Regions from separate parts of the Homo sapiens genome. Here region 1 is linked to region 2. The links come from fine-mapping of genetic effects on gene expression. A gene starts in region 2. The other region holds a variant in brackets. All regions are shown on one strand. Distances are between the middles of the regions.

Region 1 (5,382 bases), 27 kb after region 2:
TGCTTTCTCCTTTAGAATAGTCAAAATATCCTGCAAAGAGCTATAGGTCAGGTGCATTCTCAGTTTTCTCAGCAAATATTCATCAGCTGCTTACTGTTAACCAAATACTACACTAGGTGTTGAGGATTCAACAGTAAATAAAAGTGACAAAAACCTCTGCACTCATGGAGCTTATGTTTTAGTAGGGGTGGGAGGAGATAGACAATAAAACAGAAACATGCATGGTGTGTTCAAAGAACACGAAGGCCAATGGATGGATCAAAGTGAGCAAACGGGAAGGGTAATAAGATGAAATCAGAGAGGTAGTGGGCAGGCCAAACTGTGTAAGGACTTTGGCTTTAAGTAAAATGGGGAGCCATTGGAGGTTTTGAGTAGGAGAATGACGTTTTCTGACTTACATTTTAACAGTATCACTCTAGCTGCCATGTTGAGAATAGTTTGCATGGAGACAAGGGCAGAGGCAGGGAGACCACTCAAGAGGCTATTACAGTAATCTATTGAGAGATGATGGTGACCTGGACCAAGGTGGTAGAAAGTGGCAGTGGTGAGGCTGGGCATGGTGGCTCATGCCTGTAATCCCAGCACTTTGGGAGGCTGAGGTGGGTGGATCACCTGAGGTCAGGAGTTTGAGACCAGCCTGGCCAACATGATGAAACCCCATCTCTTCTAAAAATACAGAAATTAGCTGAGTGTGGTGGCATGTGCCTGTAATCCCAGCTACTCAGGAGGCTGAGGCACAAGAATTACTTGAACCTGGGAAGCAGAGGCTGCAGTGAGCTGAGATCACGCCACTGCGCTCCAGCCTGGGCAAGGGAGGGAGACTGTCTCAAAAGGAAAAGAAAGTGGCAGTGGTGACTCCTATTCAACATAGTGTTGGAAGTTCTGGCCAGGGCAATTAGGCAGGAGAAGGAAATAAAGGGTGTTCAATTAGGAAAAGAGGAAGTCAAATTGTCCCTGTTTGCAGATGACATGATTGTATATCTAGAAAACCCCACTGTCTCAGCCCAAAATCTCCTTAAGCTGATAAGCAACTTCAGCAAAGCCTCAGGATACAAAATCAATGTGCAAAAATCACAAGCATTCTTATACACCAATAACAGACAAACAGAGAGCCAAATCATGAGTGAACTCCCATTCACAATTGCTTCAAAGAGAATAAAATACTTAGGAATCCAACTACAAGGGACGTGAAGGACCTCTTCAAGGAGAACTACAAACCACTGCTCAATGAAATAAAAGAGGATACAAACAAATGGAAGAACATTCCATGCTCATGGGTAGGAAGAATCAATATCTTGAAAATGGCCATACTGCCCAAGGTAATTTATAGATTCAATGCCATCCCCATCAAGCTACCAATGACTTTCTTCACAGAATTGGAAAAAACTACTTTAAAGTTCATATGGAACCAAAAAAGAGCCCGCATTGCCAAGTCAATCCTAAGCCAAAAGAACAAAGCTGGAGGCATCACAATACCTGACTTCAAACTATACTACAAGGCTACAGTAACCAAAACAGTATGGTACTGGTGCCAAAACAGAGATATAGATCAATGGAACAGAACAGAGCCCTCAGAAATAATGCTGCATATCTACAACTATCTGATCTTTGACAAACCTGAGAAAAACAAGCAATGGGGAAAGGATTCCCTATTTAATAAATGGTGCTGGGAAAACTGGCTAGCCATATGTAGAAAGCTGAAACTGGATCCCTTCCTTACACCTTATACAAAAATTAATTCAAGACGGATTAAAGACTTAAACGTTAGACCTAAAACCATAAAAACCCTAGAAGAAAACCTAGGCATTACCGTTCAGGACATAGGCATGGGCAAGGACTTCATGTCTAAAACACCAAAAGCAATGGCAACAAAAGCCAACATTGACAAATGGGATCTAATTAAACTAAAGAGCTTCTGCACAGCAAAAGAAACTACCATCACAGTGAACAGGCAACCTACAAATTGGGAGAAAATTTTCGCAACCTACTCATCTGACAAAGGGCTAATATACAGAATCTACAATGAACTCAAACAAATTTACAAGAAAAAAACAAACAACCCCATCAAAAAGTGGGCAAAGGATATGAACAGACACTTCTCAAAAGAAGACATTTATGCAGCCAAAAGACACATGAAAAAATGCTTATCATCACTGGCCATCAGAGAAATGCAAATCAAAACCACAATGAGATACCATCTCACACCAGTTAGAATGGCAATCATTAAAAAGTCAGGAAACAACAGGTGCTGGAGAGGATGTGGAGAAATAGGAGCACTTTTACACTGTTGGTGGGACTGTAAACTAGTTCAACCATTGTGGAAGTCAGTGTGGCGATTCCTCAGGGATCTAGAACTAGAAATACCATTTGACCCAGCCATCCCATTACTGGGTATATACCCAAACGACTATAAATCATGCTGCTGTAAAGACACATGCACACGTATGTTTATTGTGGCACTATTCACAATAGCAAAGACTTGGAACCAACCCAAATGTCCAACAATGATAGACTGGATTAAGAAAATGTGGCACATATACACCATGGAATACTATGCAGCCATAAAAAATGATGAGTTCATGTCCTTTGTAGGGACATGGATGAAATTGGAAATCATCATTCTCAGTAAACTATCGCAAGGACAAAAAACCAAACACTGCATGTTCTCACTCATAGATGGGAATTGAACAATGAGAACACATGGACACAGGAAGGGGAATATCACACTCTGGGGACTGTTGTGGGGTGCGGGGAG[G/T]GGGGAGGGATAGCATTAGGAGATATACCTAATGCTAAATGACGAGTTAATGGGTGCAGCACACCAGCATGGCACATGTATACATATGTAACTAACATGCACATTGTGCACATGTACCCTAAAACTTAAAGTATAATAATAATTAAAAAAAAAAAGAAAGTGGCAGTAGTGACAGCCTTACCCAAGTCTGGGAAAATACTTCTGGAGGTATTGGGATGCTTCGCTTAGTGCTTCATGGACCATCTGGGTTTTATGGACGCCTCTGTTTTGTCCTGTGGACCAGCCCTTTCCAGGTTGAGATGCCATCTTTTTCTGTCGCTTGTTATCACCATACAGCCTATGGTGTCATATGTGGCTTGTAAGTGTCAGGTATGGCATACACACTTGATGCATTGTCAGCTAGACCCACAGGTGGTTTTGAAAGGAGTCCTGTCCAAAATGTTAAAGACAAGAGGAATGGGTGGAAATTTTATAAGCAACCTCAGCCTTTATCTGATAGGTACCCATGATGGATGATACTCACATATAGGACACAGTTCTTTGGGATGTGATCTGCATTAGCTTTGGGGTTATATGCACTTTGTCGTACACTATTTGTAATTCCATCTCTATCTTTTATTAAATCTATATTGGGATGCAAGTGAGTGAGAGTGATATTATTGTGTAGGACTAACTTCTGAATCCATTCTAATTTATTCAAGCAAATTTACTTTCAAAGGCAAATCATTCTCAAACTTTAGGTTTTACTTATTTGTAAGAAGGGGCCTTTAACCTAACTTACAAATAAAAAAGGCTAACGTGACAGGGAAAAATTTTATGTAATTCAAATTTCAATGTCCATACATAAAGTTTTCTTGGAACACAGCTGTTCTTATTTATTTGTGTATTGTCTCTGTTTGCTTTCACACTACAATGACAGAATTGAGTAGCTGTGATGGAGACCATATAGCTCAGAAGGCCTCAAATGTTTATCTGGGCTTTAATTGAAAGTATTGCCCACCTCTGATTTAGATATAATAACCAAATTATTAACAGAGTATTTTGTTGTAGATTTGATCAGCAAACTTTGGCTACCTCATGTGAATAGCACACATTCTATTGAGGGCTCTGTGAGGAGAAGTCACCCCCCACCAAAACAAATTCAATACACAGTGCTTTCTTAGGTGTTCCTTTTCAATCTTGTTGGGGAAAATTATCTACCCAAGAAACATCTTAAGAATATTTCAGAGCAGCATATTGATTAAGATTAAGACAAACGAACCCCAATTTGAGATGCATAGCAGTTAGATGGGATTAATTAGACGAGGCTCCTTAAAGAATCGACTTTTAAGTGTCTGTTTTGAAGGAAATAATAGTCAATAGATGCTCAGTAGACAATTTACTTTTAATTAGGTAAGACATAGGCTGGGTGTTTCTGGTTAGGACGCAGTGTGTGCATTTGACGTGAGAATGTCAGGTATGACAGAACACCAGAATGTCAGCCATGTGCAGCCTCTACCTGTGTCTCAGTTTCTGGCTCTCTAGCCCTTACTAAGAGTAGCTTTTTCTTTCTACTCATATTGTGTTGATGTGTTTATATTGAAGCAGTGACAGTTTGTAAAACTTTATCCTGGTTTTTTTTTTTTTTTCACTTAACAATGTTAGTGAATTCTTGAGTATTAGTGTTGAATAAATACTTTTTTAAGAAATTGGGTTGTTCACATGGTCTTAGACTCCTCCGTGATTTTATTTCATATTTAGGATTTGAAAGATGAAAAGAAAAAGGCAAAAATGGCAGCAGCTAGGGCAGTTCTTGAAAAGTGTACAATGATGCTTCTCACAGCTTCAAAGGTAAGACAATTTTGGTTTTACTGTGTAATAAATTAATAATTAGAACACCCGACTAAATGCATTTAACTTACATAATTTACATTTTAAAAAAGATCAAAGTGATTACTTAGAACATAGGCCTGAATAGTTAAATCTCAGTTATTATTTATAAGAATGCTAACTTTCTTCCCCAACTCCAAATAATAACTAATTTATGAGTCAGCTTTGATTGAACAGCTCAGCAGAACATGGTGTATTAGGTGCTATGAATTAAGGCCTGTCACACATGGTAGCTGCCTGCAGGGTTTTTCCAGTCTCATTGAGGAGCCAGCACATATGCTCTAGAAAAAGCTAGACAAGTTAAGATCTGTTAAATACAGTGGAGTAAGAAGTCAGCACTTAGTTTATTCTGTAAATTCACCCTTTAATTCCTGTTTCCACTTTTAACAAAATTATCAATCAAGAGTATTTCCAAACAGCAGTTGGCCAGCAAATTGGTGCAATTCTAGAATGAATGAGTAAAATGTCTCTTTAGCAGTTTGTTTGGAATAACCTTTTCTTCTGAGAGTATTTACCCCATGCTAGAATCAGTGAAGCCACAAAAACAGACTTCGTGGAACCCACTCAGAAGACTCTATTTTGTCTAGGCCCTTGAGTTTTTCATTTACATCATTTTTTAAAAGTCAAGATGCATCCATGATCATATATCATCTCATTTTTCTTCATTCTTTTTCATTTCTGGCATGTGTAAGGCAACATTTAAAATAGTTTTAATCATGATGAAAAGAGATTTTTTCCTAAAAAATTTTTAAGTAAAC
Region 2 (5,382 bases):
GATATTCCCCTAAGTTTATACCACAAAATGATGGAGCCAGAATTTAGTTGCAGAACTTCTGACTCCAAGTCCAGAGTTCTTTACTAGACATCTGGTTTCTTACTAGCTTTTTGCTAGCTTTTTATTTTACAGTGAAAAGTATGGAAGCAAATCCTGATAATTTTGGCTTATTATCAAATATCATTTATTTTTTATTGCAGAGACCCAGCAGATGTAACTCTCATTGTAGCCATCCCAAAGAAAACCCTTCTTTGCCCTTTGCAGTGCCACTTATTTAGGTAACTGAAGTGTATTTCCAGTACAATTTGATTTTGAACTAAGATTTGATATAGAGTTGTAATTGCTTACATAACTCTTTGAAAATGTATCATCCCTGGGTTCTCAGGTGAAGGAGGCAATTCAAAAGTAAAAAAGAATATTCGAATACAATAAATACCCTCTGTTCTCACACAAATGCTGTTTCTTAGCTAACTTGCTTTGACAACCTACTGATGTAACTTCTTTATTAATGTGAAATATTTATATTTTGAAATAAAATTACTAGTGTTGAATGAATCATGTGGTAAACTTAATCTCCTGTGTGTTGAAAAACTTGATCTTTTGTGAAGCCAAAGTTTCATGAATCCATCCGTCTCTTAGGCCTTCTGTTATGCCATTTCCTCCGGCACCATTGTGTACACTGAATTCTTAGGAGATACTGTCAACTTCGTAAGGGAAGGTGTGTCCAGGAAGTGGACACTGGGCGCCTTAAAGAGGTCAAGGGCCCTCAGTGCACAGGGGAAGGTGGCCTTGTGATAGGTAAGGAAGTGGTGAGATGGTTGGCTGAGAAGAATTGGAAGAAAAAGTTGGATTGAGGACCTGTCCTTTTTGAATGAAGAAAAAGAAGCTGAAGCTTGGCTATCTTCAATACCAAAGACAGCTGTGCAGCACTGGTAGATTGATGAAGCTGAAGCTACAGGTTGAAGCACTGTGAAGCGCCTTTCAACGGTGCTTGGGAAAGAGCTTTCTTATGCCTCAGGTTGATGTACCCAGCTCATCAATCTGGTGTTATGGAAGAAGAAATGATCCAGGCCAAGGTGTCCGGGTGGACTGGCCAGCCTCAGATTCTTTTTTACTCTGACAGGTTCTCACTGGCAGATATGGTAGTTGACAAAACATTTTTTCATGCTTCTCAGTCTGTTGCTTAAGTCTGGAATTCCTTCACGGCGTGCATACTGCTGACAACCTCCTTTTGGCCTTGCTCCTGGAGACCTTAGAATAGGAGTCTTCAGCTCCCCGCCCCCATCGTGGGGCTCTGTGCGAGCTCAGAGTTGTGCTTACAGAACTGATTCTTACCCTTCCCCTCAAGTGAGTTGTCAGAAATACACACTTGGTGTTTTCATGCAATGAACAGTTATGAAGAAACTGCTCTGTGCCTGGCACTAGGAAAAAACTTCGAAAAATAGTTTTAAGAAGTAGTGTTGAACAGTAGATGAGGCTTTTTCATGTTTCTTTTAAATTTCTTTTGAATAAGTCTAAACAGTAGTGTGAAAGATATACTGACTTCCTGCCGAATACCCAGATACTCCATTAATGATTGCATTATCAAATGTTTCCCCTTCAATCCAGCTCAAAGTGTTTGTGAGAAATACATGGTGAAAGAATGAGCAGGGTGGAGTGGAAATTGGACCTTCCGGAGAAGCCCCAGGAAGACATTACCACTGGAATTCCCGTCCCAGGGGAAAGGCCCCTCCCAACAGACTTGATTCTGGTTTTGGTCTACCAGTTTCAACCCCAGCACAGCTTCCAGAAGTCTTTGCGGGAATTCAGAGCTGATTTAGGACGAGTCACCTATCGAGAGGACGGGAAGCTTTGCTGGGGACGCTTGTCTGTCCAAGTAAGAGGAGGCCATGTGGCTGTGTGACAGATGTGTTTTGTTTCTCCTCGCCACCCTGGCGAGAAGGTGCCTGGAACCCATGGAAGGGGTCTGAGAAGAGATAAGGGCGGGGCCATGTGGGGGCGGGACCCGGCTTAGGGGGTGGGGTTGCAGGGAGCCCACACCAGGCTGGACTGCGCGGGCGGGGCAGAGGCCGGGGGTGGGCGGGGACATACGGTGACGGGCGTCGGGGACGCAGGGTTGGCGGCGGAGCCCTGGGGGGGCGGGCCCCTGGGGGCGGGGTCTCGGTTGGCGCGAGTGTCCTGTCGCCGCCGCCTCGGGCGGGTGGGCTGACTGGCGGCAGGCTCGCCGCGGCGCGGAGTCCCGGCTGCGGGATAGACCGAGGGCCATGGCCGCCTCTCCCGGACCCGCCGGCGTTGGCGGCGCCGGAGCAGTCTACGGCTCCGGCTCTTCGGGCTTCGCCCTCGACTCGGGACTGGAGATCAAAACTCGCTCGGTGGAGCAGACGCTACTCCCGCTGGTTTCTCAGGTAAAGTGGCGCCTGGCGCGGCCCCTCTTCTCCTTCCCGCCGCGGCCCGCGATGGCGGCCGCCGCTCGCACGACCGGACGGGAGGCAGCCGCTGCCCCACTTTCCGCGCCGGCACTGCGGCGTTCTTGTCGGACCGCCTGTGTGGGGCTCCGGGACGGGCCTCGGCCCGGGCGGCGAGAGACTGGATAATCCAAACTCCGGCGGCAGGGTTGAGTGGACTCGGCAGCAGGGGAGGCTGCGGGGCGGGGGTGCCGGCCTGGGCCTTTGCCCCCAGTACCTGCCTCGGGTCTGCGGCTCCCGGGTGCCCCCGGCCGGGCGATGCCCCCTCCGCGGGGCGAGTGGTTGAGCCCAGCTCCCGAGGCAGAGAGGACCCCCGCGGGGCCCCTCGCTGGTACTTAGGGCCCTCCACGATAACCGACTTTGTCACCAGTTCGCAGCCTGGTCCCGAGCCCGGCTCCTCCGCCTGGGGTATTCCTCCCGGCCTCCCCGCCCAGCGTGCGCTCCCTGATCCTTTGTCCCTCCCCGCCGTAGGTCAGTTCGCTGGCCTCCCATTCATCCCGGCCACCCTACCCCTTCCCCTGAACCTGCTGCTGCTCACTTCTGCCCGCTTCTGTCCGGCCTCGTGGAAGAGTGACGTGGAGACTGTATGACAGTTAATCCAGATGCACACCGTTTTGCCAAGTCCCGTTTGGGATGTGTGCGTTACTGTATTTGCCAATCAGCTAACCGACGCCCTGAGTTTTAGGAAAGTTTTTGTTTCTCTGAGCTGGGTTATATGCAGCTTCAGGGCTAGAATTCCTCACTTAGGTCTGTGGTAAGATGCCAAGCACTGTGGGGAGTGAATTCTGTGCCTTCGGGAGCGCGTTGGCGATGTGTGACTCACATCTAGGTTGTAACCACTTCGTGACTCATACTAGGATTACCAAGATTTTAGAGGTAGAAGAAATCTTAAAGATTATCTGACTAAAAATTCTTTCTTTAGCATCCTTGACACCTGGCCACCAGTACCCTGCTTAAACATGTTCAGTGAAGGGGAGCCTGTAGCTGTTGCATAGAATTCTAAATGCTATTATCTCTTCTCCTGCCCAGCCCTGCGCATATTTGAAAACAGCAGTTACACATGTCCCTGGATTCCTGTTATGCTGGTTAAATAAACATCCCTATTTTCTTCACCTTCGCATGGCTAACGGAGCAGTGATGAATATATCTGACACTCTCCTTCCCTTTTCCTGTGTCTCATTGAGGCTCTGACCAGTGGGAAGGGGCACTGGGATCCCTCAGTAATGTCAGACCCTCCGCTCCTCGCCTATCTCCACTAGCACAACACAACCAAAACGAGAAACACTGGAGCAGTTTTAAGAGGCAGAGAGATAAGAGAGTGATGGAGTTCAAGTTGATAGTATTTTATCCATTTTTTAAATAACACCTATGTAATGCTTACTATGTGGTAGGCCAGGTTCTAAGCACTTTGTAAATATTAACTCATTAATTCTCATAACAATCATGTGAAGTTGGTATATATTCTCGTGGTATGGGAGAGGAAACTGAGGAATACTGAGGTTAAATAATTTGTTGTTAGGGCTTTCAATAAGTGCCAAACTGGGATTTGAATCCAGGTACCCTGGCTCCAGAAGGTTCTCTTTGCTACACTATGCTGTGTCCTCTCTAGAGATTAGAAGCAGTAATGAGATCTAGAGAAAAAGATGGTACATAGTGGAAAAACAAGCTAGAAAGTCATAATCTGGAGAAATGGCAACTTTTCACAGTATCCACTGCTAAAAATGTATCAGTCTTACAGCTCTGCATTGTGTAACTCTGGGGTAAAAGAAGCCAGAGAAGGGTAGGAGAGCAGAGGAAGAAAAGTATAAATCACTGCTGAGAGTTAGAGGTCAATGCCAAAGGGGAAGAATGCCTGCCTTTTTTTTTTTTTCTTTTTCCAGTTAAAGCCTTGTTCAGGGTCACAGCTGAGGTTTTGCATCCCACACATTGTGTATCTACAGCTACATCTCTACCACAACACCATAACTGATATTCCTCATAATTGACTGTCCTTAACAAGAAAAAGTTAAAATCAAGAAGTGTATTAAGCATGGCCAGAATACTCGGTTAACAAAGCAGGGAAGTACAATTTAGAATGATTTTAAAGTTTCAGTGTTAGGAGATTAAAACAGCAGTTCTCCAGAAAACTCATATGTCCACAAGTCTCATTTTCTGAGAATGCTGTATTATTACCCAACTCATGTTTCACCATCTCATCCACAAGGATATTTTAAGCATTTTAAGCAAGGATTTATTGTGTGCTTATTTGTTGCTGTTTTTTGAGGGGCTTATATTCTAGTTGGTAGATAGGTCATGTATAGAACAGCACATGCAAAGTGTCAAATGAACATCATCAATGGTACATACTCTAAAAGCTCAGAGAAGGCATGGATGAGTCAGCAGTGATGTCATGGAGGAGGCAGGGTTTTGAGGTAAACAAGTAGGACTGGCACTATACGGTTTAAAGTAGACAGTTTCTATTCTGGTATCATCTAGCTTCTTCTGACTCTCCAAGTGAAAAGTCCTGGGTTACTGGCCTTATTCTAAGAATGCAAGATTTTATCAATATTAGAAAAATGTGTATAGTTTTTTTTGCATTCACAGATTATAAAAGATGTATTTTCCTAACAATGATGCAGAAAAAGCATTCAACTAAATTCAGCTTCTAATAATGATAAGAAGCACTTAGGGAACTAGTGTTAGGAAAAAGTGTCCTTAACCTGATAGAGTATCTACAGAAAACTTTTACTTAACATCATAGCAACAGTCAAATTTAAAATAAACATTTCCTTTAAAGCCAGAAACCAGAGTGGGGTGCCTGCTATGCTTCTACTCAGCACTGCACTGGAAATTCTAGCCAGTGTAATATGACAAGGAGAAGAAATAAAAGGAATAAATATAGGAAAGGAAAAACCAAAAGTCTCAGTGTGATATAATA

Evidence for each region. PIP is the estimated chance that this variant, and not a neighbour inherited with it, causes the effect.
Region 1: its variant is the best candidate, but not a certain one, in a credible set for the expression of CTNNAL1 in whole blood (TOPMed, PIP 0.63).

Annotation. Positions count from the first base shown.
Region 1 is chr9:108,983,550-108,988,931 of GRCh38, reverse strand. CTNNAL1 (catenin alpha like 1) reads left to right here. Exons shown (of 19, transcript NM_003798.4): 5 at 4,496-4,585. It overlaps LOC105376216 (a long non-coding RNA gene), which reads right to left and starts at 3,181. Exons shown (of 7, transcript XR_007061724.1): 1 at 2,937-3,181. The variant G/T (reference allele first, on the strand shown) is at 2,756.
Region 2 is chr9:109,010,325-109,015,706 of GRCh38, reverse strand. CTNNAL1 (catenin alpha like 1) reads left to right here and starts at 2,208. Exons shown (of 19, transcript NM_003798.4): 1 at 2,208-2,405. The coding sequence starts at 2,265. It overlaps TMEM245 (transmembrane protein 245), which reads left to right. Exons shown (of 18, transcript NM_032012.4): 18 at 1-572. RefSeq lists a silencer at 1,966-2,855 and an enhancer at 2,517-3,020.